Linked DNA regions of Homo sapiens. The protein of the gene in region 1 interacts with the protein of each later gene in a biochemical or structural test. Each region holds a gene or a part of one and is shown in the gene's direction. Other genes may lie near its edges. The genes, in order: CLSPN, CSNK1G3, USP29 and TIPIN.

Evidence for each region.
Region 2: of the proteins of CLSPN (region 1) and CSNK1G3, one has a biochemical effect on the other in vitro, tested with the Homo sapiens proteins (one study listed by BioGRID).
Region 3: of the proteins of CLSPN (region 1) and USP29, one has a biochemical effect on the other in vitro, tested with the Homo sapiens proteins (one study listed by BioGRID).
Region 4: the proteins of CLSPN (region 1) and TIPIN form a complex in vitro, tested with the Homo sapiens proteins (one study listed by BioGRID).

What each region holds. Positions count from the first base shown.
Region 1 is NC_000001.11:35,738,710-35,746,288, reverse strand, and holds part of CLSPN (claspin), read left to right. Parts: intron 1-726; coding exon 727-838; intron 839-2,712; exon of another isoform or gene 2,713-2,758; coding exon 2,759-2,834; exon of another isoform or gene 2,835-3,047; coding exon 3,048-3,148; intron 3,149-6,759; coding exon 6,760-6,924; intron 6,925-7,031; coding exon 7,032-7,153; intron 7,154-7,579.
Region 2 is NC_000005.10:123,570,976-123,578,554, forward strand, and holds part of CSNK1G3 (casein kinase I isoform gamma-3), read left to right. Parts: intron 1-2,417; coding exon 2,418-2,566; intron 2,567-4,753; coding exon 4,754-4,988; intron 4,989-7,579. UniProt on the Homo sapiens protein: Serine/threonine-protein kinase. Casein kinases are operationally defined by their preferential utilization of acidic proteins such as caseins as substrates. It can phosphorylate a large number of proteins. Participates in Wnt signaling.
Region 3 is NC_000019.10:57,122,827-57,130,405, forward strand, and holds part of USP29 (ubiquitin carboxyl-terminal hydrolase 29), read left to right. Parts: intron 1-1,212; 5' UTR 1,213-1,313; intron 1,314-5,833; 5' UTR 5,834-5,849; coding exon 5,850-7,579.
Region 4 is NC_000015.10:66,353,686-66,360,710, reverse strand, and holds the start of TIPIN (TIMELESS-interacting protein), read left to right. Parts: upstream 1-4,025; 5' UTR 4,026-4,072; exon of another isoform or gene 4,073-4,568; intron 4,569-6,589; exon of another isoform or gene 6,590-6,713; intron 6,714-7,025.

The sequences.
Region 1 (7,579 bases):
CTTACTTTCTTAGAGTGGTAAAGTATCAACTTAAGACTACTTTAGGCCGGGCGCAGTGGCTCACGCCTGTAATCCCAGCACTTTGGGAGGCCAAGGCGGGGGATTTCCTGAGCTCAGGAGTTCGCCACCAGCCTGGGCAGCACGGTGAAACCCCGTCTCTACTAAAATACAAAAAATTATCTGGGCATGGTGGCCCGTGCCTGTAATCGCAGCTACTTGGGAGGCTGAGACAGGAGAACTGCTTGAACCCCGGAGGTGGAGGTTGCAGTGAGCCGAGATTGTGCCACTGCACTCCAGCCTGGGCAACAGAGAGAGACTGTCTCAAAAAAAAAGTCTTGAAAAAAAAAAAGACTGCTTTAGCTTTGCCCATATATCATTTATGATTAATGTATGTACAAAGTTTAGAACAGTGTCTGATGTATAATAAATTTCATATAAATGTTAACTTACTTCCTGTTCCCTGCCCCCAATACACACAACTGCTAGATCGAACATAAGCTCTATGAGACCTGGGATAGTGGTTTGTTCATTACTGTATCCCTGGTGGCCTGGCACATATGGCACATAGTAAGCACTAAATAAGGATTTGTTGAATGAATAGATGGTAGGCTCTTCTTGGCAAGCTTACCTTAGAACTGTATCGAGCTGGCATGACTTTAGATGGCTGGGAAAAGAGTATAAAGCTATCATTCCTTGGTGACACATCTTTTCCTTGTTGTGATGTAGATGCCTCCACTCCAGCCTCATCAGAGTTAAATAAACAGGAGAAGGAGAGCAGCATGGGTGATCCAATGGAAGAAGCACTTGCTCTTTGCTCAGGCTCTTTTCCCACAGACAAGTAAGTCTCAGATTGCTGGGAATTTGGGAAGGCCTGGCCTTTTGATAAAATCAAAATAACTGATCATCTTAAGGGCTTTGCACCTTTTCTGAGAATCTTGCAGTGGATTTGAGTCTCATATATGCCTAGTAAGCAAATTATAATGCTTTGGTGGAGAACAGGGTAAAAAAGGCAAGAATATGAAAGCTATTTAATATCATTAATAGAGAAATGCCAATCAAAACCATAGTGAGACACCCATTAAGATGACTTTTATCAGAAAAACCCCAAGAGTGTTAGTGAGAATGTGGAGAAATTGGAAACCTTGTGTACTATTGGTGAGAATGTAAAATAGTGCAGCTGCCAGGGAAAGTATGATGGCTCCTCAAAAATTAAAAATAGAGGCCAGGCACGGTGGATCATCTGAGGTCAGGAGTTCGAGACCAGCCTGACCAACATGGTGAAACCCCGTCTCTACTAAATACAAAAAATTAGCTGGGCATGGTGGCGCATGCCTGTAATCCCAGCTACTTGGGAGGCTGAGGCAGGAGAATTGCTTGAACCCGGGAGGCAGAGGTTGTAGTGAGCCGAGATCATGCCATTGCACTCCAACCTGGGCAACAAGAACAAAACTCCGTCTCAAAATAAATAAATAAAAATAGAATGACCATATGATCCAGCAATTTCACTTCTTAGTCTGTACCCCAAAAAAGTGAAAGCAGGACTTGAACAGATATTTGCACCCCCATGTTCAAAGCAGCATTATTCACAGTAAGTAGTCAAAACATGAAAGCGACCTATGTTTATTGGCAAATGAATGGGTAAACAAAATGCGGTATATATGCAAAGGAATATTCAACTTAAAATGGAAATTCTGGCTGGGCATGGTGGCTCACACGTGTAATCCCAACACTTTGGGTGGCTGAGGTGGGCGCATCACTTGAGCTCAGGAGTTTGAGACCAGCCTGGATAATATGGCAAAACCCCATCCCTATAAAAAAAATACTAAAATTAGCTAGGCGTGTGCCGGCAGTACCAGCTATTCAGGGGGCTGAGGTGGGAGAATTGCTTGAGCCTGGGAGGTCAATGCTGCATTGAGCCATGATTGTGCCACTGCACTCTGGGCATCAGAGCAAGACCCTGTCTCAAAAAAAAAGAAGTTCTGACACTTGCTACAACATGGATGAACCTTAGAATGTTATGCTAAAAGAAATAAGCCAGTCACCAAAAGACAAATACTGTATGAGTCCACTTACATGAGATACTTAGAGTAGTCAAATGCATAGAGACAGAAGGTAGAATGGTGGTTGCCAGAGACTGAGGTTATAAGGAAATGGAGAGTGTAATGGGTATAGAGTTTTAGTTTTGCAAGCTGAAAAGAGTTCTGGAGATTGCTTAACAATATGAATGTACTTAACACTACAGAACTATAGAAAGATCGTTAAAAAGGCAAATTTTATATTATGTGTATTTTACCACAATTGAAAATTTAAAAAATTTTCTTCCTGTTTATTGAAGAGATTATTGGTGATAATAAAAGTTTTAAATTTGGCTGGGCGAGGTGGCTCATACCTATAATCCCAGTACTTTGGGAGCCCAAGGCAAGCAGATTGCTTGAATCCAGAAATTCAAGATGAACCTGGGCAACATGGTGAAATCTGTCTCTACAAAAATACAAAAATTAGCTGAACATGGTGGCTTGTATCTCTAGTCCCAGCTACTCAGGAGGCTGATGTGGGAGGATCACTTGAGCCCTGGAGGTGGAGGTTACAGTGAGCTGAGATGGTGCCACTGTATTCCAGGTGGTGTAAGAGACCAAGACTGTCTCAGAGAAAAAAAAAAAATTAACACACACAAAATTTTTTTTAATTCATAACTTGGCTGACTACTTGTAGTTTGCTTTCAACAACTTATTTATTGATTCATTGATTTACATTTTAGGGAAGAGGAAGACGAGGAGGAGGAATTTGGAGACTTTCGGCTTGTTTCAAATGATAATGAGTTTGATAGTGATGAGGTGAGTATGAAGGGAACAAAGTAATCATAACTGAGCTCCATGTATTGCTGCCCTCAAGTGTTTTTTTCCCCTCAGTTCTTGAGAATTCTAAGTTTGGCATCTTATCAGAAACAATTTCCTAGAATGAGGTATTTGGGCAGATGTTTATAAATCCTTTTTTCATTGAGGACGCATTTTATTCTGCTTAATTTGGATATGATGCTGATTTTGTAGGATGAACACAGTGACTCTGGTAATGATCTGGCACTGGAAGACCATGAAGATGATGATGAAGAAGAACTCCTGAAGCGATCTGAGAAGTTGAAAAGGCAAATGTACGTGTTATTAATATGTCCATTCCTTCAGGTGTATTTAAAATTTGGTCACTAGGCCAGGCATGGTGGCTTGCGCCTGTAATCCCATCATTTTGGGAGGCTGAAGCAGGCGGATCACCTGAGGTCAGGAGTTCAAGACCAGCCTGGTCTTGGTGACACAGGTCAAGAGATCGAGACCATCCTGACAAACATGGTGAAACCCTGTCTCTACTAAAAAATATAAAAATTAGCCAGATGTGATGACAGGTGCCTGTAGTCCCAGCTACTCAGGAAGCTGAGGCAGGGAGAATCGCTTGCACCCAGGAGGTGGAGGTTGCAGTGAGCCGAGATCGCACCACTGCATTTCAGCCTGGGTGACAGAGCGAGACTCTGTCTCAAAAAAAAAAAAAAAAAAAAAGTTGATCACTTAATATGTCCTGTGTGCTAATAACTGTGCTTTACAGGCATTAACATATTATCTTATGCCAGGCACAGTGGCTCACGCCTGTAATCCCAGCACTTTGGGAGGCCAAGGCAGGCATATTACTTGAGGTCAGGAGTTTGAGACCAGCGTGACCAACATGGTGAAACCCTCTCTACTAAAAATACAAAATACAAAATAAAATACAAAAATTAGCCAGGCATGGTTCTGGGCGCCTGTAGTGCCAGCTACTTGGGAGGCTGAGGCAGGAGAATTGCTTGAATATGGGAGGCGGAGGTTGCAGTGAGCCAAGATTGCCCCACTGCACTCCAGCCTGGGTGATAGAGCAAGACTCCATCTCAAAAAAATTATCTTATGAGTGGGTACTATTATTCTCCTCATTTTACAGTTGAAGGAACTGAGCCTCAGAAAGATTAAATTTACCCAAGATCACATAGCTAGAAGGCAGCAGAGGCTGGATTCAACTTAGATTAGGTGAAATCTCCCCTAACAGTCAGTTAATAGTTTGCCACTTTTTAACTTAAATCCTCCTGCCTCAGCTTCCCAAGTAGCTGGGACAACAGGCATGTGCCACCACACCTGGCTAATTCTTTCTATTTTTTGTAGAGATGGGGCCTTGCTTTGTTCCCAGGCTGGTCTTAAACTGTTGGCCTCAAGTGATCCTCCTGCCTCTGCTTCCCAAAGTCTGGGATTACAGGCATGAGCCACCAGGCCCAGCTTTTTTTTTTTTTTTTTTTTTTTTTTTTGAGACGGAGTCTCGCTCTGTCGCCCAGGCTGGAGGGCAGTGGCATGATCTCGGCTCACTGCAACCTCCGCCTCCCGGGTTCAAAGCGATTCTCCTGCTTCAGCCTCCTGAGTAGCTGGGAATATAGGCACGTGCCACCACACCCAGCTAATTTTTGTATATTTAGTAGAGACGGGGTTTCACCATGTTGGTCAGGATGGTCTCGATCTCTTGACCTCACGATCCACCCGCCTTGGCCTTCCAACATGCTGGGATTACAGGCGTGAGCCACCCCACCTGGCCGGCCCAACTCATTTTTTTGATATGCTGTTCTGGTCATGAAAGTAAAATATTTATTTTAGGATATTTAAAAGAATACAAACTGGGTGCAGTGGCCCACGCCTATAATCTCAGCACTTTGGGAAGCTGAGGCGGGTGGATCACCTGAGGTCAGGAGTTCGAGACCAGCCTGGCCAACATGGCGAGACCCCGTCTCTACTAAAAATACAAAATTAGCCAAGCGTGATGGCCAGTGCCTGTAATCCCAGCTACTCAGGAGGCAAAGCTGGAGAATCGCTTGAACCGGGAGGTGGAGGGTGCAGTGAGCTGAGATTGTGCCATTGCATTCCAGCCTGGGCGACGAGAGAAACTCCATTCTCCCCGACCCCCGCAAAAAAAGAATACAGAAAGATATAAATAAAAACTTATCCATGTCCACCATCCAGGATATAAATGAAAGTTAGTTTGTTCCCCTTAATCTTTTTTATGCATATATTTTTATATAGTTGAGATTTGTACAATCTTTCTATATGTATAATTTTGCATCTTTTTTTTTCTACTTAGCATATCCAGAAACATTTTCCTATGATGTTAAAAAAAGTTTTATAAAGATAATTCTAATAGGTATTTAATATTATATTGTATGTGAATGATTTGGAATTCACATATAGGACATCATATTGATCCCTATTAGATTTATATGGTTGCTTTTATCCCATCATTTCATTCTATTAAGATTCACTTTGGGTTCTAATTTATCACCTATCAAATTAACTCTCATACAGCTTTAGGTTATCCATAGATTTTTCTAAGGTAGTGGTTCTTCTCTGCAGAGCTCTTTGTTCAAATAAAATCTTTTAAAGAATGACAGATAAAAGTTGAACTGTTCAAAGATGGTAAGTGGGAAGTTTGGGAAACTTAGTGACTAGTGGCCTCTGAAGGAATTTTCCAGGAACTCTAGGATTTAGAACAACTTAGCTTTAAGAAAATACAGTATAGGCTGGGCGTGGTGGCTCATGCCTGTAATCCCAGCACTTTGGGAGGCTGAGATGGACAGATCCCCTGAGGTCAGGAGTTCAAGACCACCCTGGCCAACATGGTGAAACCCTATCTCTACTAAAAAAACAAAAATTAGCCAGGCATGGTGGCACGCACCTGTAATCCCAGCTACTCGGGAGGTTGAGGCATGAGAATCACTTGAACCCAGGAGGTGGAGGTTGCAGTGAGCCGAGATGGCATCTCTGCACTCCAGCCTAGGCGACAGAGCGACACTTCATCTCAAAAAAAAAAAAAAAGAGAAAATACAGTATAGGTCTTCGATAAAAATCAGTTTTCAGAAAGCCACCAAACTTCTGCCATTTTGGACCACATGGGACCAAGGTGACTTTGAATCCAGGGTGACACCAGATTTATTCTCCGGGGGAGCTGAAGTCATAAGAAGTAACTAGTCGTTTTGATTACCAGGAGCTCTGAGCCTTAGTCTTCCTTCTGATGTGGGGGTCAAGATTTGTTAGGCTGTAAGAAGATCCCAGTTTATTACCTTTCTACACCACACCATCTCTAGTTTGTCTCTTAAAGCTGGTGTGCTCAAATGCAAAATGAAATAGTTTGAACCTTCCAGCAGGTATTCTAATACATGTAAAAGAGATTAAGAGTTTTCTGGCTTTCAAATCACCCAATCTAAGTTGAATCCAGGCTCTGCTACCTTCTAGCTATGTGACCTTGGGTAAATGTAATCTTTCTGAGGCTCAATTCCCTCAACTGTAAAATGAAGAGAATAATAGTACCCATTCCTATGATAATATGTTAATGCCTGTAAAGCACAGTTATTAGCACACAAGACATATTAAGTGATCAACTTTTAAATACAGATGCTCCACATCTTACAATGGGACTATATCCTGATCAATCCATCATAAGTTGAAAATGCACTTTCATATTATCCAGATATAACTCCATCGTAAATCGAGAAGCATACTAAGTGCGTATCACATTCATGTCATCGTAAAGTTGAAAAATCATTAAGTCAAACCATCATAAGTGGAGACTATTACAAAAAAATTTAAATATTATCAAATGTATTATGTTTATTATTATTAGAAGTGACTCTGTTCTGCTTTTCTTTGCTTCCATATTCTGTGAGTATATTCATTGTTGCATTTTCTAATCCTCAAAATTGCTTTCTAGGAGGTTGAGGAAATACCTGGAGGATGAGGCAGAGGTGTCAGGAAGTGATGTGGGAAGCGAAGATGAGTATGATGGGGAAGAAATTGATGAATATGAAGAGGACGTAATTGATGAAGTACTTCCTTCTGATGAGGAACTGCAGAGTCAAATCAAGAAAATACACATGTCAGTATCCCAATAAGCCCTTCTGAGTAATAGGGTACATCTTAAGACAAGCCCTGTAACCAGCCAGAATGGTCCTTGTTTTGAACACCTTATTTCTCCTGTTGCAGGAAAACTATGTTGGATGATGATAAGCGACAGCTACGTTTATACCAAGAGAGGTACCTTGCTGATGGGGATCTGCACAGCGATGGTCCTGGGCGAATGAGGAAGTTTCGATGGAAAAACATAGGTATCTTGGTTGTTGTCTTTAAAAGCAATCAGTTACGGGCTGAGCATGGTGGCTCACGCCTGTAATCCCAACACTTTGGGAGGCAGAGGCAGGTGGATCACAAGGTCAGGAGTTCAGGACCAGCCTGAACAACATGGTGAAACCCCGTCCCTACTAAAAGTTCAAAAATTAGCAGGCTGTGATGGCACGCGCCTGTAATCCCAGCTACTCAGGAGGCTGAGGCAGGAGAATTGCGTGAACCCGGGAGACGGAGGTTGCAGTGAGCAGAGATCATGCCATTGCACTCCAGCCTGGGCGACAGAGCGAGACTCCATCTCAAAAAAAAAAAAAAAAAAGCAAACAGTTACAATGCATATTTGTCGAGTTTCAGATGGCAAATGGCAAGCAAAACTATAACAGGCTATGTGAAGACCTAGTTGTAACTGT
Region 2 (7,579 bases), on another chromosome or scaffold:
TTAGAGTTGGAATAAACTTAACAAGCCTCTCATTCCCTGTTTCTGAACCTTTTCTCCACCTTTACACATGTGAGGGGTAGATATGACAAATACATCTAAGAGTGGCTGTGGTAGGAGTGTCTTTGATTCCCAGTAGCAAGAGGAGATGGGACAAGCGTGTGTGATGTGTGTGTGTTTGCAGGGGGTGGTGATACATACACATTGGGGTGTATCAGAATCTCTGTTTCTGGGGAGGGCACCATGTATGCAGTTTGAATTTGTATCCATTCCTGCTATGATTACACTATCTTTTTTTGTTTGTTTGTTTTGTTTTGTTTTGTTTTTTTGAGAAGGAGTCTTGCTCTGTCGCCCAGGCTGGAGTGCAGTGGCGCAGTCCCGGCTCACTGCAATCTCCGCCTCCTGGGTTCAAGTGATTCTCCTACCTCAGCCTCCCGAGTAGCTGGGACTACAGTGATTACACTAGCTTACATTCCCACCTGCAGATGTTCTGCTGCCTCACTCATATTCATATCTGAGAAATACTTGTCTCATCCAAATCACTAATATTATAATAGATAAGTAAACTGAGGCCCACTTGAGAGGTTGAATGACAAGCTAGCCACACAGCTGATGAATATTAGGTTAGACTAAGAATGTAGTTTTCTTGGTTTTTAGTTCAGTGTTTTCTATTCTGTCCTGCAATGATTTATATTCAAAATAATAGGGTAAATAATAATAATGTTATATTTAAAAAACGTTTTATTAAAAAGAATGAGAAGTTTTCATTAGATTTGTTTTCTCTTTCAATATACTGAAAAAAAATCACTTGGAAGTAAAACTGAGACATTTGTGGTGGAAGAAGTTCATTTTTTCATGCTAATAGATAAATGCAGTGTTAAGTGTCAAACTAAATAATAGGGAGACTTGTCTAAAAGAAAATGATAGTTATTTACGAGTGGGCATTACAATGGGAATATATGTGAGTATATTCAGGGAGGTAAAGGAAGACAAGAGTTTTTAAAGGAAAAATGAGGAGGGTCACATAAGTTGTTTTGAGAGAGTTACCCTTGGCTACAAGGATCATTAACAAGAATGGCCTCAGTCTGAAGTTGGACAGGCAGTTCCTGGGCAGATGTCCTCACAGAGTAATTTTTTGTAAAGTTGTGGTGGCTTTTGTTCCAGGTTGTGGTTTTTGCAGTCTTTTGTGGTAGTTCTTCTTATCAGGCATATATATATATATGTGTGAGAACCCTCCCTTCATCTCCTTCCCTAGCTCTGTTTGTCAGGGTTTTAATACAAGTGACTCTGTTTTGATTCTGACAACTTCCATATAAAGTAAATTGATCACTTACATTTCAGTTTATTGGGAGTCTGTTAGTTCTGAAAATAAAATACAGATGACTTCATATTTGGAGTTTGTATTATTCAGACTTCATATTTGGAGTTTGTATTATTCTATATAGCTTCATAATGAATTATTACTATCTCTTACTGGCTTAAGATGAAAGACTTTATTATCTCACAATTTCTATGGGTCAGGAATACGGGCATGGCTTTGCTGGGTCTTCTGTTTAGAGTCTTACCATGTGGAAATTAAGGTGTAAGCCTGGACTGCAATCTTACATGAGCCTCAGTGCTCTCTTCCAAGTTCACTGATTCTTGTCAGAATTCAATTCCTCATGGCAATAGAACTGTGTGGCCCTTACTTCCTCAAGGATTCCTATCTGGCATGTGGCTCCCTCCACTGCATGGTGGTTTGCTACTTTAAGGCCAGCAGGAGAGTTTCTCTGCTGTTTCCAATATCTCTGACTTCTAGACTATCTTTTTAAAGTCTCACCTGAATAGGTCAGGTCCACCAGGATTCTCTTCCTTCTGATCAACTTACAGTCAACTGATAGGAGCCTTAATTACATTTGCCGTATAAGTTAGCCTGGTCACAATAGTGAGATCCCAGGAATCATGCTCACGTTCAAAGGGAGGGGTTTATACAAGGTGTATAAGCCAGAGGATGGGAATCTTGACAGTGGTGATCTTAGCAGTATGCCTATCACATGGTTATTAAAGCCAGTAGTGACTCTCTTTTCAGTAGAACTGGAATCTCTCCTATGTGCTAAGCCTTTCTCCAGGCCATGGAAATATAAAGCTAAAAAGCCCAGCTTTTGTCCAGTAATAAGGTGGTAGAGAGAAACAATGAAGTACTGTTTATAATGTAATTCAGTCATGCAGCTGCAATAGAGGTGTATCCAGGCTACAATGTGAACATCAAAGAGAAGGTATTGGGAGGTTGGGAGGTTTGGTCAGGAAAAGTATGTATCTGGAAAAAGTGATAGTACTGCTTTAGTTCTTGAAACTATAAAATTTTAAATATCAGTTTTTAAGAGGAAAACCTTAGTATTTAAGATGATGAAATTATTAAATGAGTATTTCTTTTCCCCCAGATGGTATACCTCAAGTTTACTATTTCGGCCCTTGTGGTAAATACAATGCTATGGTGCTGGAACTGCTGGGACCTAGTTTGGAAGACTTGTTTGACTTGTGTGACAGAACATTTTCTCTTAAAACAGTTCTCATGATAGCTATACAACTGGTAAGTAAAATAAGGTATTTGAAGTTGTTTGAACAATTACATGGTTGTTGGTCACAAATTCATATTAAAAGTTTAAAGTTCTGTGATATTGTCTTACAGAGCGTTTGACGTAATACAAATGTTTCTACTTTTCATGTTGTCTTTCTGGGATCCATGTAACTTAAAATAACTGAGTCAAGTATATTTTATTTGTATAAAAACTAATAATTGCTTTAAGATCAAAATGCTCAGTTTGCAAATTAAGTTGTTGCTAGCCATTTCTTCATATAAAAGATGATTACTTCAAAAGAGAACCCTCAGAAACATAGATTTTTTTTTTTTTTTTTGAGACGGAGTCTTGCTTTGTTGTCCAGGGCGGAGAGCGGTGGCGAGATCTTGGCTCACTGCAACCTCTGCCTCCCGGGTTCAAGCAATTCTCCTGCCTCAGCCTCCCGAGTAGCTGGGACAACAGGTGCATGCCACTACGCCCGACCAATTTTTTGTATTTTTTGTAGAGACAGGGTTTCACCATGTTAGTCAGGATGGTCTCGATCTCCTGACCTTGTGATCCGCCCGCCTTGGCCTTCCAAAGTTCTGGGATTACAGGCGTGAGCCACCGTGCCGGGCCAGAAACATGGATTCTTAATTTTGGTAATAGACTTTATGACCTGGAAAAACAAGAGGCAGACTAATGAGAGAGTCTTGATAAACTACTTAGACTTCAGGGAATCCGTTGGATAACAATTAGAGAGTGATTTTAAGGCAGTTTCGAAATAAATGCCAATAGAAGTGTGCTGCAGAAGTCTTAAAATTGTTTTTATTCATTGACTCATTAATTCTACAAATTTATCCTATGGATGTTTTCATAGGTACTTAAAGCTTTATATGAAAGGATGTTTATAATAAAAAAAGGAGAAGCAACCCAAATATGCAGAAATAACAGGGTTAGTTGAATAAATTAATATCCAGAGGAAAATATGCAGCTGTTAAAAAGTGCATATTAAAGATTGTTTTATAGGCTAGGTGTGGTGGCTTGTGCCTGTAATCCCAGCACTTTGGGGAGTCTGAGGCTAGAGGATCACTTGAGCCCAGGAGTTCAAGATCAATCTGGGCAACATAGTGTGACTCTGTCTCTACAAAAATAAAAATAAAAAAAAAAATAAGCCAGGTGTGGTGGTGTGCTTGTGTAGTCCCAACTGCTGAGGAGGTTGAGGCAAGAGGATTGCTTGAGCCCGGAGGTTAAAGGTTGAAGCTGCAATGAGCTATGCGTTCCATCCTGGGTGGCAGAGTGAGACCCTGTCCCTGCCCCCACACACAAAACATCAAAAAACCAACCAACTGCCCCCAAACAAAACAAAGAATATTTCATGACTTTGCAAATGCTCATATCATTAATTAAGAATATATAGACATAGAATATTGTACATTATATGCTGCAAAGTTTGTTAAACAAACTAGAATGGCCTGTGTAGCCATATGTTTACATTGCATTGTTAACCATGATTATCACTAAATGAAGCAGTTTTATTTTCTTATTTGTAATACTCTATTTTATGACAGTTTGTACAATGAACATTGAGAATCTGTAAAATAATTAACAAAAATGAGCTATATTATTAATATTAGAGTTGGATTTCAGACTTTTCTAGCTTTATGATCTTTCTAGCTTCAAGATTAATCATTTTTAAATGTTTAATACCTAGGAAAAAGTAAAGGAAACATGTTATGAAAAAGAAAAAGATACTGAATAGTGCTGTTGTTTTTACTTAATAGTTTAGACTCTTAAGTTTCTTTAATATACTTGTAAAAGTTGCTTGGTTATTGAACTGATAAGGAAGATTATATTGCAATGTTTTGCATATGTCTGCTTATACTTTTGGGTTCAAGGTCTTATATCAATGTGGCTTTTTGATTTTATGAAGTAGCATCCTCTGAAAGTGTTCATTGAATCAGGCTTGCTGATATGAAAGGAATTCATAAAATTCAAATACTCTCGTTTAGCAGTGACCATAACAGTAAAGGCAAAGATTTTAAATTGCAATTTGCTATGTGAAGAATGATAGGCTGACATCATTTTACTTTTAAAGGGTTGAAACAATTTCTGATTTATTTCTTTTGTATGTTTTCATTCTGTCTTGCCTTTATCATACTTGCTTAGGCTAGTCAAAGCCCAAAATAAAACTTCTCTTCTTTTTTTCTTAAACCAAGATTTCTCGCATGGAATATGTCCATTCAAAGAACTTGATATACAGAGATGTAAAACCTGAGAACTTCTTAATAGGACGACCAGGAAACAAAACCCAGCAAGTTATTCACATTATAGATTTTGGTTTGGCAAAGGAATATATTGATCCGGAGACAAAGAAACACATACCATACAGAGAACACAAGAGCCTTACAGGAACAGCTAGATATATGAGCATAAACACACATTTAGGAAAAGGTATGTGTACCTTTCGTAAGTATGGAAGTTTGAACTTAGCAGCTGTGCTAACACTGTGAGTTTTTATTTGTTATGGTTCAGTTTTTGCAGATTATAATAGCTTTTATTATAATTTTCATTTATCACATCTACCTAGAGTTTACTTTCACTTATATTTTAATAAAACTCTTTGAAAGTAAGTTACTATAGAGTAAATGAGTGACAGCTATCTTTACATTCACTGTATTTTTTGTATTTATATAACTTGAAGTGTTCAACTTTGATACAGTTATGGGGATGCATTTAATCATTTCTCTTACAAAATATGAGAGAATACCAAATTTTAACTGAATTCAGTACATGTGGAAATTTTGGATTGAGACCATAGCTCTCCAATATGGCTAGCCACAGAAATAGCAACTAGCCTAATAAGTATAATGCTAACAGCATATACCTTAGAGGTGGGCAGAGCTGGCTTACCTGTATGCTAACTATGACTTCGGACAAGTTTAACCTTTTTAAGGGGTTTCTTATTGGTAAAAAGAGTAAAACAATATCAACTTCACAGGATTTTTTATAGCATTCTTCCTTCACCCAGATTCATATTTATCATATCCCTTAAATCATTTTCATCTGGAACAGTTCCTCAGTCGTTCGTTATGGCTCATGACCTTAATATTTTTTAGGAGCACAGGCTATTTTATAGGATATCTCCAATTTGGGTCTGTTATTTCTTTTTGACTAGATTTGGGTAGGCATTTTGAGCACAAATATCACAGAAGTGATGTGTTCTTAGTGCATCATGTTGGGATCACTTGCTTGGACGATATCTGCCAAATTTCTCTACTGAAAAGTTTCTTGTAGTTAGATTTTGGGATTATGTAAACATGTTGTTCCTCATCAGATTTTTGCCCTCTAGATTTAGCATCCATTGATGATTTTCTAACTCCATTATTTCTAATATTTACATTTCCTTATTTGTCAGTTGATATTCTAATGTCAGCAGAAGCTTTACCTTCTCCCCCAGTTATTGACTTATGTCTATATGAACTTATTAATTCTTATCTTATTTAATGTAATGTATTGAATGCATTATCATTATTTATTCTGATAGCCAAAGGGTTCCAGATTTGGCCACCCGTTGCTCCTTCAAGCTGGCTTCTCTGTCCTTTTGACATGTTCTCATGAATCTTTGAGTACTTTCTTTCTTTTGGTGCAGCAAGTTCTTATAAACAAACTCATCTTGTAGTTTCTCTTCTGCAGCCCCATAATCAGTCCTTTTCTCCAAGAAGTTCTGAATCCTTTTATTGGATAATGGTATTTAGAAACCAAGATTTGGCCACTGGATATGCTCATTACTGTGGTATGTTGTTACTGCCAGGCCCTTTCTGCAGCAGAACTAGGAAATGTTTGTGCATATATGTATATACATACACACATAGAAATATGCCTACATATATACGTATGTATACACACACACAGAGACATACGTTAATATCTGTTAAAAATTTTGAGTTTATACTGATACACTTTTAATTTCAGTCTGTCAGTACAAAATAGTATTTCCCTTTTCTATATTTGTAATTCCATCCCTTTTCCATATTTGTATCTTTTTTTTTAACAGTGAGAAATCTGGCTATCACTACTTACAATATATTTACTTGTTTTTAAAAGCTGAGGATACTCAGAAAGTAGTTTCAGATTGCCAAATGATACCACTTTATATAGCAAGTCTAATAGAATTATAACATTTGTAATTCTTATTTTATTGAAGAGTTTTTTTTTTATTGAAGTAAAATTTACATTGGGTAAAATATACAACATTTGATTATATAATTTGTGAGTATTGATGAATGTGCATACTATGTAACCCACACACTATCAAGATTTAGAACACTATCATTATCCTATAGACTTCCATTTTACCCATCTTAGTCATTCCCCTCCTTTTCTAGAAGCAATCACTGATCTGATTTCTATCACAACAGATGAGTTTTGCTGATTCTATTACTTAATATAAATAGAACCATCCAACTTCTTTTGGTGGGTATAATGTCTTTAAGATTCATTTATGTTGTTGCAAGTATCAGTAGTTTATTCTTTTTTAATGCTAAGTAATATTCCATTGCATAAACATATCACAAACTGCTTATCCATTTGAATGTTGATGGATATTTGGATTAAGTTTTTGACTTATGAATAAAACTTGTATAATATTCTTACAAATCTTTTTGTGGGCATATTTTTCAGTTTGGTCCTATGGCAGGTATTATTTAACTTTATAAGAAACTGCCTGTCTGTTCTCAGGAGTGTTCATACCTTTTTTTATTTCCATCAGTAATGAATGAGAATTTTGTTTGTTTCATAATCTTGACAACATTTAGAGTTGTCAGTCTTTTTCATTGTAGCTATTCTAGTGGCCAAGGGGTAGTCTTTTAATTCCTTGTGATTATTGTTTCTGAGATCTGTTTCATGTATTTATTGGCTATTTGTATATCTTCTTTTGAAAAGTGTGTGTCATTTCATTGTTAATTTACAGAGTTCTTTATATATTCTGGGTATAATTATTTTGTCATATATATGCATTATGAGTAATTTCTTTCAGTCTTTGC
Region 3 (7,579 bases), on another chromosome or scaffold:
ATCTCTAATTTTTGTGATTCCTCCTTTCATTAAATTTAAGGTCCAGTGAGGGTGAAGTTTCCCTAAAGAGGCAATAATTTATCAGCAGCAACAGGATGAAATGGAGGGGCTTTTCTTCACACTCTATATATTATGTTAGGATCTCTCAGGAAACTGAGGACACATTAATTATAATCATGGAAGATTTTCTGCTTCCCACATGGTTTGCTGGGTTTGGCATAGTATAGCTCATGCCCTACATTGAAGAAATGTGGGCACCCATCAACAGCAGCCATTTCTGATTACACATCCCTGTTTCTTTAGCTGAGTGACTCCTAAAAGTCCCTTAATGTATTAATAATGCATTTGGACCTCAGTTTTCTTACTATGTTAAATGTAATAAAATTGAATATCATATGGTCACTTGCAGAATTAAATGGTATTAAGGCATGTAAATCATATAGAGTGATGTAGTACAACAAACAATAAACCTGTAATAAAAGTCACTAAACTCCCTTCCCTCCCATGATGGAGCCTTAATTTTCTCTATATGAGGCATCCCTGTAGTTTAATATATTCTTAGAATTAGCAATAGGAATATGATGTCAACAATTAATTTTGAGCCATTTTAGCCCAATGACTTATCCTAAGAAGTCGCTATTATTGTTGCCATCCCGTTTTCACTTATACGAAAGTAAGACTCAGGAGGGTTGAGTTTCAGCCTTAGTGTTAGAAAAGCAGTAAGCGGTGAAGCCGGGCTTGGAATCCTGGAAGTTGGAATGTACAATGTGTGATCTCGATGCATCCTCTCTGTAGTGCCTCTTTGTAACAAGAAAAAAATAAAGATACTTAAAGTTCTAGGTAAGCAAAGTCAGAACTAGTCTTTAAGTTAGAGACCCATAAAGTATAAGGTTTCTCAAACAACAAATGTTGTTAGAAGGTCTTGTTGTGGCAGAGTTCCAAGAAAACCAATGAATGTGAAGTCAGTTGATATATTAATCTAATCTGTGTAATTGGGGAGGGGCACTTTTAGGAATGCATTTAGAGATAATCCCATTAACACAGGAGGTTTTCTCCCAGATTAAATTAACGTAAACGACTTTGGAGGAAGGTTGGTTTTCCCAGTTTCTAAGATATAATGCAATAAATTAACATGAAAGATGGTTGGGACTATGTGCAGACTTTTTAAATAAACCTCAGTTTCAGGACTCTGACCTTTTTGTTTCTTCCTAGTAACAGCCGTGGCAGTCAGAGCTCTGCCTGCAGTGTGACCATGGACAGCTCTCCAAAGCTTAAACTTCAGTAAATTGACTCAAGTTTCTTCGGAAAGAACTGTGAGTAGCAAAGGGCAACTTTTTCTGTTGGTTTCATTGGGATTTCACTGCTTTTCCTGAAATTGGAATGTTGGAAGGAAGTAGGCATTCCTCACTGCCTGGGGAGAAATGGGCAAATGAGTAAGGGGAGGGAGCAAATTCAGAGAGATATTTTTTATTTTTTCTGAAACCTGTTTGTGTTTTGAGATGTCTTTCCCTTCATGTTTTTTTTTTTTTCACTCTTCATATTTCCCTTTCTCTGTCTCTCTCCCCACCTCGGTTTTGCTAATTAGCTAGCACAACAACTCGCCATCTTACTCCTTTTCCTTACTCCCTGTTTTTTGTGGGGTTTTTTTTTTGGTTTTCTTTTTTGTTTTTTTTTTGTTTTTGTTTTTGTTTTTTGTTTTTCAGACAGAGCCTTGCTGTGTCTCCCCAGCTGGAGTGCAGTGGCGAGATCTCTGTTCACTGCAACCTCCACCTCCAGGGTTCAAGCGATTCTCCTGCCTCAGCCTCCCCAGTATCTGGCACTATAGGTGCCTGCCACCATGCCCGGCTAATTTTTGTATTTTTAGTAGAGACCAGGTTTCACCATGTTGGCCAGGCTAGTCTCAAACTCCTGACCTCAGGTGATCCACCTGCCTCAGCCTCCCAAAGTGCTGGGATTACAGGTGTGAGCCACCGTGCCCAGACAGAACTTCTTTATTTTTGCCTTAATTTTGTTATTTAACCAGTAGTCATTCAGGAGCATCATATAGAGTGATGTAGTACAACAAACAATAAACCTGTAATAAAAGTCACTAAACTCCCTTTCCTCCCATGATGGAGCCTTAATTTTCTCCATATGAGGTAGTTTAATATATTCCTAGGATTAGCAATAGGAATATGATGTCGACAATTAATTTTGAGCTGTTTTAGCCCAATGACTTATCCTAAGAAGTCGTTATTATTGTTGCAGTCCCATTTTCACTTATGTGAAAGTAAGACTCAGGAGGGTTGAGTTTCAGCCTTAGTGTTACAAAAGCAGTAAGTGGTGAAGCCAGGCTTTCCATGTAGTTGTGTGGTTTTTAGTGAGTTTCTTAATCCTGAGTTATAATTGGATTGCACTGTGGTCTGAGAGCTTGTTTGTTATGATTTCCGTTCTTTTGCATTTGCTGAGGAGTGTTTTACTTCGAATTATGTGGTCAATTTTAAAATAAGTGCTATGTGGTGATGATAATATTGATCTATCTAATATTAACAGGGGGGTGTTAAAGTCTCCCACTATTATTGTGTGGGAGTCTAAGCCTCTTTGTAGGTCTCTAAGAACTTGCTTTATGAATCTGGATGCTCCTGTATTGGGTGCATATATATTTAAGATAGTTAGCTATTCTTGTTGCATTGATCCCTTTACCATTATGTAATGCCCTCTTTGTCTTTTTTGATCTTTGTTGGTTTAACATCTGTTTTATCAGAGACTAGGATTGCAACCCATCCTTTTTTTTGCTTTCCATTTGCTTGGCAAATATTCCTCCATCCCTTTATTTTGAGCCTATGTATGTCTTTGCACATGAGATAGGTCTCCTGAATATAGCACATCAATGGGTCTTGACTCTTTATCCAATTTGCCAGTCTGTATCTTTTAATTGGGGGCATTTAGCCCATTTACATTTAAGGTTAATGTTGTTACGTGTGAATTTGATCCCATCATCATGATGCTAGCTGGTTATTTTGCACATTAGTTGATGCAGTTTCTTCTGTGTCATTGGTCTTTATATTTTGGTGTGTTTTTGCAGTGGCTGGTACCGGCTTTTCCTTTCCATATTTAGTGCTTCCTCCAGGAGCTCTTGTAAGGTAGGCCTGGTGGTGACAAAATCCCTCAGCATTTGCTTGTCTGTAAAGGATTGTATTTTTTCTTCGCTTATGAAGCTTAGTTTGGCTGGATATGAAATTCAGGGTTGAAAATTCCTTAAGAACGTTGAATATTGGCCCCCACTGTCTTCTGGCTTGTAGGGTTTCTGGAGCAATCCACTATTAATCTGATGGGCTTCCCTTTGTGGGTAACCCGACCTTTCTCTCTGGCTGCCCTTAACATTTTTTTCCTTTGTTTCAACCTTGGAGAATCTGACGATTATGTGTCTTGGGGTTGCTCTTCTCGAGGAATATCTTTGTGGTATTCTCTGCATTTCCTGAATTTGAATGTTGGCCTGTCGTTCTAGGTTGGGGAAGTTCTCCTGGATAATATCCCAAAGTGTGTTTTCCAACTTGATTCCATTCTCCCCGTCACTTTCAGGTATACCAATCAATCGTAGGTTTGGTCTTTTCACATAGTCCCATGTTTCTTGGAGCCTTTGTTCATTCCTTTTCATTCTTTTTTCTCTAATCTTGTCTTCACGCCTTATTTCAGTAAGTTGATCTTCAATCTCTGATGTCCTTTATTCTGCTTGATTGATTTGGCTATTGATACTTGTGTATGCTTCACGAAGTTCTCATGCTGTGTTTTTCAGCTCCATCAGGTCATTTATGTTCCTCTCTAAACTGGTTATTCTAGTTAGCAATTCCTGTAGCCTTTTATCAAGGTTCTTAGCTTCCTTGCATTGGGTTAGAACATGCTCCTTTAGCTCAGAGGAGTTTGTTATTACCCACCTTCTGAAGCCTAGTTCTATCAATTCATCAATCTCATTCTCTGTCCAGTTTTGTGTCCTTGCTGAACAGGAGTTGCGATCATTTGGAGAAGAGACATTCTGTTTTTTGGATTTTTCAGCGTTGTTGTGCTGGTTTTTCCTCATCTTTGTGGATTTATCTACCTTTGATCTTTGAGGCTGTTGATCTTTGGATGGGGTTATTGTGTGGGGGTCTTTTTTGTTGATGTTGATGTTGTTGCTTTCTGTTAGTTTTTCTTCTAGCAGTCAGGCCCCTCTTCTGCAGGTCTGCTGCAGTTTGCTGGAGGTCCACTCCAGACCCTTTTCACCTGGGTATCCCCAGCGGAGGCTGCAGAGCTGCAGAACAGCAAAGAGTGCTGCCTGTTCCTTCCTCTGGAAGATTTGTCCCAGAGGGGCACCAGCCTGATGCCAGCCAGAGCTCTCCTGCATGAGGTGTCTCTCAACCCCTGTTGGGAGTTCTTTCCCAGTTAGAAGGCACGGGGGTCAGGGACCCACTTGAGGAGGCAGCCTGTCCCTTAGCAGAGCTGTTGTGCTGTGCTGGGAAAATCCCTCTTATCAGGATCAGCTGCTCTCTTCAGAGCCAGCAGGCAGAAAAGATTAAATCTGCTGAAGCTGTGTGCCCACAGCCACCCCTTCCCCCAGGTGCTCTGTCCCAGGGAGATGGGAATTTTATCTGTAAGCCCCTGACTGGGACTGTTACCCTTTCTTCAGAGATGCCCTGACCAGTGAGGAGGAATCTAGAGAAGCAGTCTGGCCACAGCTGCTTTGCCATGCTGTGGTGAACTTTGCCCAGTCCAAACCTCCCACCCTCCTTAGCACTGTCCAGGGAAAACTCTACTAACGCCTCATTAATCACGGATGCGCCTCCCCCAACCAAGTTCCATCATTCCAGGTCAACTTCAGACTGCTGCACTGGCAGTGAGAATTTCAAGCCAGTGGTTCTTAGCTTGCTGGGCTCCATGGGAGTGGGACCTGCTGAGTGAGATCACTTGGCCCCCTGGCTTCAGCCCCCTTTCCAGGGGAGTGAATGGTTCTGTCTCACTGGGGTTTCAGGCACCACTGGTGTACAAAAAAAAATCAACTCTTGCAACTAGCTCGGTGTCTCCCCGAACAGCTGGCTAGTTTTGTGCTTGAAACCCAGGGCCCTGGTGGTGTAGGCACACAAGGGAATCTCCTGATCTGCAGATTGCAAAAACTGTGGGAAAAGCGTAGTAACCGGGCGAGTAGCATAGTTCTTCACGGCTTCCCTTGGCTGGGGGAGGGAGGTCCCTGGCTCCTTGCATTTCCCAGGTGAGGCAATGCCCCACCCTGCTTCTGCTCGCCCTCCATGGGTTGCACCCACTGCCTAACTAGTCCCGATGTGATGAACTGGGTACCTCAGTTGGAAATGCAGAAATCGCCCACCTTCTGCATTGGTCTCGCTGGGAGCTGCAGAGCGGAGCTGTTCCTATTTGGCCATCTTGGCCCCGCCCCTTTTTTAATTTTAAAAAATTTTATGTAGCGATGAGGTCTCCCTATTTTGCCATGCTGGTTTTGAACTCCTGGGCTCAAGTGATCCTTCCACTTGGCCTCCCAGAGTGCTAAGATTACAGGCGTGAGCCACCATGCCCAACCAAATTTGTATTTTCTCGATGAGCAGTGATGCTGAGCACCTGTTCATATCTCTGTTGGCCATTTGTATATTCTTTCTCGCCTAACAGCTCCCTTGAAAATGCGTGTGCCTCAGTCTATGTCTTCTGGAGAACTGGCACAGCTTCAGAATATTAGCACCCCAAAAGAGTATTTTACTTAGAGCATAAGAAGACTAAAAATAAATCATTATTATATGTGGATGAGGTTTTTCATAAAATATAACTGTTAATATATTCTTGGTTAAAATGCATGTGTGCTTTTCTTCTTTAGGTTACATAAAGAAAGGATGATATCTCTAAAGGTATGTGGATTCATCCAAATTTGGAGCCAGAAGACTGGGATGACTAAGCTGAAAGAAGCTCTCATTGAAACAGTGCAAAGACAAAAGGAAATTAAACTGGTGGTCACTTTCAAATCTGGAAAATTTATAAGAATTTTTCAGCTGAGCAACAACATTAGAAGTGTGGTCCTTAGACATTGTAAAAAAAGACAAAGTCACCTGCGTTTAACTTTGAAAAACAACGTGTTCTTGTTTATTGACAAATTATCCTACAGAGATGCTAAACAGTTGAATATGTTCCTGGACATAATCCACCAAAACAAATCTCAGCAACCCATGAAATCTGATGATGATTGGAGTGTGTTTGAAAGCAGGAATATGCTGAAGGAAATTGACAAAACTTCATTTTACAGCATTTGTAACAAGCCAAGTTATCAGAAGATGCCTTTGTTTATGTCAAAATCACCAACACATGTGAAAAAGGGGATATTAGAAAATCAAGGTGGGAAGGGGCAAAACACACTATCATCTGATGTACAGACAAATGAGGACATTCTGAAGGAAGATAACCCTGTACCAAACAAGAAATATAAGACAGATTCCTTGAAATATATACAAAGCAATAGGAAGAACCCATCAAGTTTAGAGGATTTAGAAAAAGATAGAGATTTGAAACTCGGGCCTTCATTCAATACCAACTGTAATGGAAATCCTAACCTAGATGAGACTGTTCTTGCAACCCAGACTCTCAATGCCAAAAATGGTTTGACATCTCCATTGGAACCAGAGCACAGCCAGGGTGACCCAAGATGCAACAAAGCCCAGGTGCCTCTTGACTCTCATTCACAGCAACTGCAGCAGGGGTTCCCCAATTTGGGAAACACCTGTTACATGAATGCAGTTTTACAATCGCTATTTGCAATTCCATCTTTTGCTGATGACTTACTCACTCAAGGTGTCCCATGGGAATATATTCCCTTTGAGGCTCTTATTATGACCTTGACCCAGCTGCTTGCTTTGAAAGATTTCTGTAGTACAAAGATCAAGAGAGAATTACTTGGGAATGTTAAAAAAGTCATTTCAGCAGTTGCAGAAATATTTTCTGGCAACATGCAGAATGATGCTCATGAGTTTTTAGGTCAGTGTTTAGACCAGCTGAAAGAAGACATGGAAAAATTAAATGCCACTTTGAATACTGGGAAAGAATGTGGGGATGAAAATTCATCTCCACAAATGCATGTTGGTAGTGCTGCCACCAAAGTGTTTGTTTGCCCTGTTGTTGCTAATTTTGAGTTTGAATTGCAGCTCTCCCTTATTTGTAAAGCTTGTGGTCATGCTGTTCTCAAGGTAGAACCTAATAATTATCTCTCCATCAACCTGCACCAAGAAACAAAACCACTTCCTTTGTCCATTCAGAATTCTTTAGATCTTTTCTTTAAAGAAGAAGAGCTTGAATATAACTGTCAGATGTGTAAGCAGAAGAGTTGTGTTGCAAGGCATACATTTAGTAGGCTCTCCAGGGTCCTTATCATTCATCTGAAACGCTATAGCTTCAACAATGCTTGGTTGCTGGTGAAGAATAACGAGCAAGTTTATATTCCCAAATCTTTAAGTTTATCTTCTTATTGCAATGAAAGCACCAAACCACCTCTTCCCTTGAGCAGTAGTGCACCTGTTGGGAAATGTGAAGTCCTGGAAGTCTCTCAGGAGATGATTTCTGAGATCAACAGCCCATT
Region 4 (7,025 bases), on another chromosome or scaffold:
ACAGGCCTGAGCCACCTGCATCAGGCCTAATTTTTGTTTTTTCAGTAGAGACGGTGTTTCACTATTTTGGCCAGACTGGTCTTGAACTCCTGGCCTCAAGTGATCCACCTGCCTTGGCCTCCCAAAGTGCTGGGATTACAGACGGGAGCCACTGCATCCGGTGGACAATTAGTTATTGACAATATCAATGACTGACAACTGTGGTTGTAACTCAGATAAAACAACAAACAGTTAACAAAATCTTTACATTTTCTTTTCCTGCTTTTTTGTAGCGATGGGGTTTTACCATGTTGCCCAGGCTGGTCCGGGACTCCTGGACTCAAGCAATCCTACTGTCTCAGCCTCCCAAAGTGGTGGGATTACAGGTGTGAGCCACTATGCCCGGCCAAAATCTTTACATTTTCTGAAAGGGTGAAACATTCCAAAAATCATATGGATAGTTATATAAAATGTATTAATGTCTTTTACTTTTATTTTTATTTTTTAGGGATAGGATGTCCCTATGTTGCTCAGGCTGGCCTTGACCTCCTGGGCTCAAGTAATCCTCCTGCCTCAGACTCTGAAGTACCTGCGATACTACAGTAACATACCATTAAATATGGTTTTTTACTCCTCTTTACAACCCTATGAGGAAACTGGGTTAGACGGGGTGACTCATGTCTATAATCCCAGGACTTTGGGAGGCCTAGTTAGGAAGATCACCTGAGATCAGAAGTTCACGGTTACAGTGAGCTATGATTGTGTCACTGCACTCCAACTCAGGTGATCAAAAATAAAAAAAGGAAACTGAATCAGAGTTAAAAGTCACCAACCAGTAAATGACGGAACTGAGATTTAAACCTTCAAGAGTATCAGTATCTGCTCTGTTCGTTTTTGGCAGGCTGGGGGCGGCGTGGGGAAGGTGTATAACTTTTTTTAACTTCTCAGAGTGCTTTTACATTTACTTTATTAGTCAAAAAGTATAGTATATAAACTTACCTGGATAATTAAAAGAATGCCTCTTGTCTCAACAATTCAGACTACTGAAATGGACATTTCTCATTCAAATTCATGTAACTTTTAGGCCTGGTGAGGTGACTCACGCCTGTAATCCCAGCACTTTGGTAGGCTGAGGTGGATGGATCACTTGAGGTCAGTTTGAGACCAGCCCGACCAACATGGTGAAACCCCATCTCTACTAAATACAAAAAACACAAAAATTAGCCGGGAATGGTGGTGCCTGCCTGTAATCCCAGATATTCGAGTGGCTGAGGCAGAGAATCTCTTGAACCCAGGAGATTGAGGCTGCAGTGAGCCAAGATTGCACCACTGCACTCCACCCTGGGTGACAGAATAAGAATCTGTCTCAAAAACAAAAAAAACTAAATTTATGTTAATTTTATTAATTGCTTAATATTAATATATATTATCTCACAAGTATAGAAATAAAATCATAAAATAAAGGAAATGTGACACATAGATACATGTGCACACATAATTTTAGACAGAATTGGTAATTTACTTTCTATCTTTGTGTGTGTGTGTGTGTGTGTGTGTCTGTGTGTGTGTGTGTGTGTTTTGAGACAGGGTCTCACTCTGTTACCCAGGCTGGAGTGCAGTGGCATGATCATGGCTCACTGCAGCCTCGACATCCGGGACCCAGTGTTTTTTAAATTTTTTTTTTTTTTTGAGACAGAGTCTAGTTATATCACCCAGGCTGGAGTGCCGTGGTGTGATCTTGCTCACTGCAATCTCTGCCTCCTGGGTTCAAGCGATTCTCTCGCCTCAGCCTCCCGAGTAGCTAGGATTACAGGCAGGCACCCACCACACCTGGCTAATTATTGTATTTTTATTGAGACGGGGTTTCACCATGTTGGCCAGGCTGGTCTCGAATTCCTGACCTCAGGTGATCCACCCACCTTGGCCTCCCAAAGTGCTGGGATTACAGGTGTGAGCCACTGCACCTGGCTTCACTTTTTAAATTTTTAATAAAATGTTTCAAGCTACAGAAAAGTAGCTGGGTGCGGTGGCTCACGCCTGTAATCCCAACACCTTGGGAGGCTGAGGAGGGGAGGATCGCTGGAGACCAGGCGTTGGAGACCAGCCTGGGCAACATGGCGAAACTCCCATCTCTACAAAAAATTTAAAAAATTAGCTGGGTGTGGTGGTGCGAGCCTGTAGTGCCAGTTACCTGGGAGGCTGGGGAGGGAGGATCACCTGATTCTAGCTGTGATCGCACCACTGCATTCCAGCCTCAGCAACAAAGTGAGACCATCTCAAAGAAGAAAAAAAAAAAAAGACAGAGAGAAAGAAAGAAAAGTGGAGAGAATAATGCTGCCAGTATTCCCTAATTATCTTCTAGGTTTGGCAAATCTTAATGATGCTATATTTGCTTCAGATAACATTTTTAAATTTAGTTTTTTGAATAGTTAATACATTTGTATGTTCAAAAAAAATTATAGTTAAGTTCCCATCCCACTCTATCCCATATGCCACTTTCATTGCATAGGTTCTAGTTATATATTTTTCTGAGGTTGTGTGTGTATGTTTGTGTGTATACAAACAAATACAAATATATTTGGACTTACTATTTAAAAATGGAAAAGTTAACTTTTTAAAAAATGTTTTTTCTTTTTAATAGAGACAGGGTCTCAGTATGTTGCCCAGGCTGGTTTTGAATTCCTGGGCTCAAACAATCCTCCTGCGTCAGCCTCTCAAAGTGCTAAGATTACAGGCATGAGCCACCAAGTCTGACCAAATAACTTTTTTTTTTTTTGAGACAGAGTCTTGCTCCGTCGCCCAGGCCGGAGTGCAATGGCATGATCTCAGCTCACTGCAACCTCTGCCTCCCAGGTTCAAGTGATACTCCTGCCTCAGCCTCCTAAGTAGCTGGAATTACAGGTGCGCGCCACCACGCCCGGCTAATTTTTGTATTTTTAGTAGAGATGGGGTTTCACCACGTTGGCTAGGCTGGTCTCGAATTCCTGACCTCGTGATCTGCCCGCCTCGGCCTCCCAAAGTGCTGGGATTACAGGCGTGAGCCACTGCACCCGGCCCCAAGTAACATATTTTTGACATTTTTTTTTGTTTACATTCACACTCTCTCGCTTTTTTTTTTTTTTTTTTTTTTTTTTTTGCGACAAGATCTCACTGTCACCCAGACTGGATCTCCAGCTGGATCGCCAGCAGTGCGATCCTAGTCACTGCCGCCTTCAACTTCTGGGCTCAAGCCATTCGCCTGCCTGGGCCTCCCAAAGTGCTGGGATTACAGGCGAGCCACACCGCACCTGGCCAGTGTCTATGTTCAGCCCTATTTTTCCTCTCTTTACCACCTCTTTTCTCAGCTTATTATTCAATAAACAATTCATAAAACTCTGAGTTCGAAGCATTCTGCTATGAACTCTGAAGAAGCGGTAATTTCTTATTCACTATTGCTTGCCTCTGTCCTTTTTCCTCCTCCCACAACTCAGTTTTCCAAAAACCGAGACCTATTTCCAAGGTTTAAAGTGCCGGGCACAGTGGCTCACGCCTGTAATCCCAGCACTTTGGGAAGCTGAGGTGGGAAGATCGCTTGAGCTAAGGAGTTCGACACCAGCCTGGGCAACTAATCCCCGTCTTTGCAAAACAAACAAACAAACAAACAAAAACCCATTAAAACAAAAATTCGGTGTGGTGGTGTTAGTCGGGGAAGGGAGGCTGAGGTGGGAGGATCGTTTCAGCCCGGGAGGTAGAGACTGTAGTCAGCCGAGATCGAATCACTGCTCTCCAGCCTGAGTGATAGAGCGAGACTTAGTCTCAAGAAAAAAAAAAAAGAAAAACCCCAGAATAACAAGTATTAACTTTATGCAAATAAGGAGGCTTAACTGAGTTCCTCTGAAGAATTCAGTAGGGCGGAAATTGTGGGACCGAAGGCGGGACCGGCGTGCTGGGCGGAACCTGAGAGGCGGGTTTTGCAGGCTCCGCCCAGCCCCCCGCACGGATTTGGCGCCAAACGCTGCGGGCCCTTCTCGCCCCAGGAGTTCCCGAGTATCGCGAGAAGCGCGCTTAGTCTGCACGCCGAGGTCCGCGCTGTGTCCCGTGTTTTCTGCGTGAGGTGAGAGCTGGCTGGCGGGCCAATGAAGTTCTTGCGGGGAGAGGGGAGTCGGACTAGCCAGGGAGCCAGATGGAAGAGCCAGGGAGCCAGACAGACTAGCGGGAAAGCCTAATTGTCGCAGGAAGGGGGTCAGGAGGTTGGGGGGTCGACCTGACCCGGCCTGGAGAGGCGGGGAGGTGGGCGCGTGTCCCGGTTGCTTAGGTTTTGGGATGCCTCTTACTCTGCCAAGCCGCTTAGCGGGAGGGAACGTGTTCCTGATCATCTTTACCCCAGGCTTCTGTCCGGGGCGTGTCAATGTAGAAATCCCCCAGCGAATGTTGGATGAATGAATGAAGTTGAAGAGAGGGTAGGCGGGGAACGAGGATGAGGGGGACGGCTGGAGAAGAGGTATGGGAGGTTCGATGTTTCAGGGATGGCACCCAAGGGGGACATCGAGGCAGCACGGTAGCACTTCCTTTGCGATGAGGGGCGTCTCTTTGGACTTCTTGGAAAAGAGGTGGGCATTGGAAACCAGGGTCTGGGAACAAACCGTGGTTTGGACATAACATTTGTTACCTTCACTCTTCTGGGAGTTGGAGAAGTAGAGGAGGAAGTTCAGACAATTTCATAAGTGTCTAAAAAGAGACAGTTATGCGACCATTGACGAGGAGTAAAAGTCGTCTATTGAGCATCTTATTCACTACAAATAGAAGAAAGAAATACCAGTTTCCTGACAAGCCCCACCCCATGCTTGGCCAGTTCCTGAGTACACTTAATATATTTTAGGTACTGTCATCAAACTCAAAGCTCGCTGTCAGCCTCAAAGGTCTGAACCCTAGTATAGATTCTTGTAGCTTGCTTGAAGTTACAGTGGGTCATGATCAGGAATTGATGCTTTGTTTTTGTTTTGAAACGGAGTCTCGCTCTTTCGCTCAGGCTGGAGTGCAGTGGCGCGGTCTCGGCTCACTGCAAGCTCCGCCTCCTGGGTTCAAATGATTCTCCTGCCTCAGCCTCCCGAGTAGCTGGGACTACAGGCGTGTGCCACCACGCCCCGCTAATTTTTTTTGTATTTTTAGTAGAGATGGGGTTTCACTGTGTTGGCCAGGCTGGTCTCGAACTCCTGACCTCATGATCCGTCCGCCTCTGCCTCCCATAGTGCTGGGATTACCGGCGTGAGCCACCGCGCCCAGCCGATGCTTTGCTTTTATATTTATGGTAACCGAAATTTAGAATTAGTGAGATTTTAAAGATCGTCTAACTCCAATTTGGGGAAACTGGAATTTTTTTTTGCATTCCATCATTCATCAAATATATATTGAGCACCTGGGGCCGGGCGCGATGGCTCACGCCTGTAATCCCAGCATTTTAGGAGGCCGAGGCGGGCGGATCACGAGGTCAGGAGATCGAGACCATCCTGGCTAACACGGTGAAACACCGTCTCTATGAAAAATACAAAAAATTAGCCGGGCGTGGTGGCAGGCGCCTGTAGTCCCAGCTATTCGGGAGGCTGAGGCAGGAGAATGGCGAGAACCCGGGAGGCGGAGCTTGCAGTGAGCAGAGATCGCGCCACTGCACTCCAGCCTGGGTGACAGAGCCCGAGACTCCTTCTCAAAAAAAAAAAAAAAAAAAAAAGATATATATTGAGCACTTGCTGTGTAACAGCATTGGGGTTCCAGCTGTGTAACACAGAGAGACTTAACCTCGTTGCCCTTTTTGAGCTACAGTCTAGTTTGGGAGACGAACAATAAATAACTGTATAAATAAAACCTGATATTGAAACTGGATAAGTGCCATGACACTTGTACTTGACACTATGAATGCTTACTAAAGAAGGATTTAGAGAAATTGAGGTAAACTTTTGAAAAGGTGATAGTTGAGATCTGGAAGATATTAGGAGTCAAGGAATAGCTTTTTCAAGACAGGAAATAGTATTTGTAAAGAGCCAGTGGCCTGAGGGATATAGCTCTTTCAAGGAAAGAAAAAGCATAGAGTAGTGTGAAGTGAGACTGGTGAGGTAGTAAGAGGCTGGATCACACAGGGCCTTGAAGTTTTGTCTTTATCTTAAGAGCAATCAGAAACCATTGAAATACTTAATCCAAGTGAGGTGATCAGCTTTATATTTTCAGATTCAGTCTAGATGTAATAGGGACAATTGAAGGAGACGAGTGGATGAGAGTAGTGGAGTAATGCAAGCAAGAAATGTTGGGAAGTGGTTATAGAGATAAGGAGAAATAGACAGATTCAAGGGATATTTAGGAAATAAGATGGGCAGGATCTGTGGGATAGGGGAAGGAATTGCTAAAGATGACTTGTAGGTTTCTGAATTGCATAGCTGGATAGATGTCATTTAATGAGTTAGGAAAATTTAGAAGTTTGGTTTTGTACCTGCTGAGTTACAGGTGCCTTTCAGGCGTTTAGGAAGTGTAAAATGGGAAGTAGTGATCTGGATCGCAGAGTCAAGGCCTAGGGTAGAGATAAAAATCAGGGAGTCATCTATAAATCAGTACTTATTAAAGCTCTGTGCATAAATGAATGAAGAAGCCCTAGGATGGAGTCTTGGATACTTAATGGCCGGGGTAGAAGATAAACCTGCAAAGAAAATCCAGGAGGAGTGCCCAGAAAGGGAGGAAAGCCTCAGCCTCCTGAGTAGCTGGGACTACAGGTGCGTGCCACAACACCTGGCTAAATTTTTTTTATATTTTTAGTAGAGACGGGGTTTCACTGTGTTGGCCAGGCTGGTCTCGAACTCCTGACCTCATGGTCCGTCTGCCTCTGCCTCCTGCTGGGATTACCGGCATGTCTTAGAAGTTAAGGTAAACATTTTTCCCAGAAAAAAACTGACCAAAAGTGTCAGTTGTTATTGAGAAGTTAAGTAAGGCAGTACTGAAAAACATTCTTTCGAGTTATCAACCTGAGGATAATTTCCCATTCAGGAAACCTTACCTAGAAGACCAATATGTAAACACATTTAAAA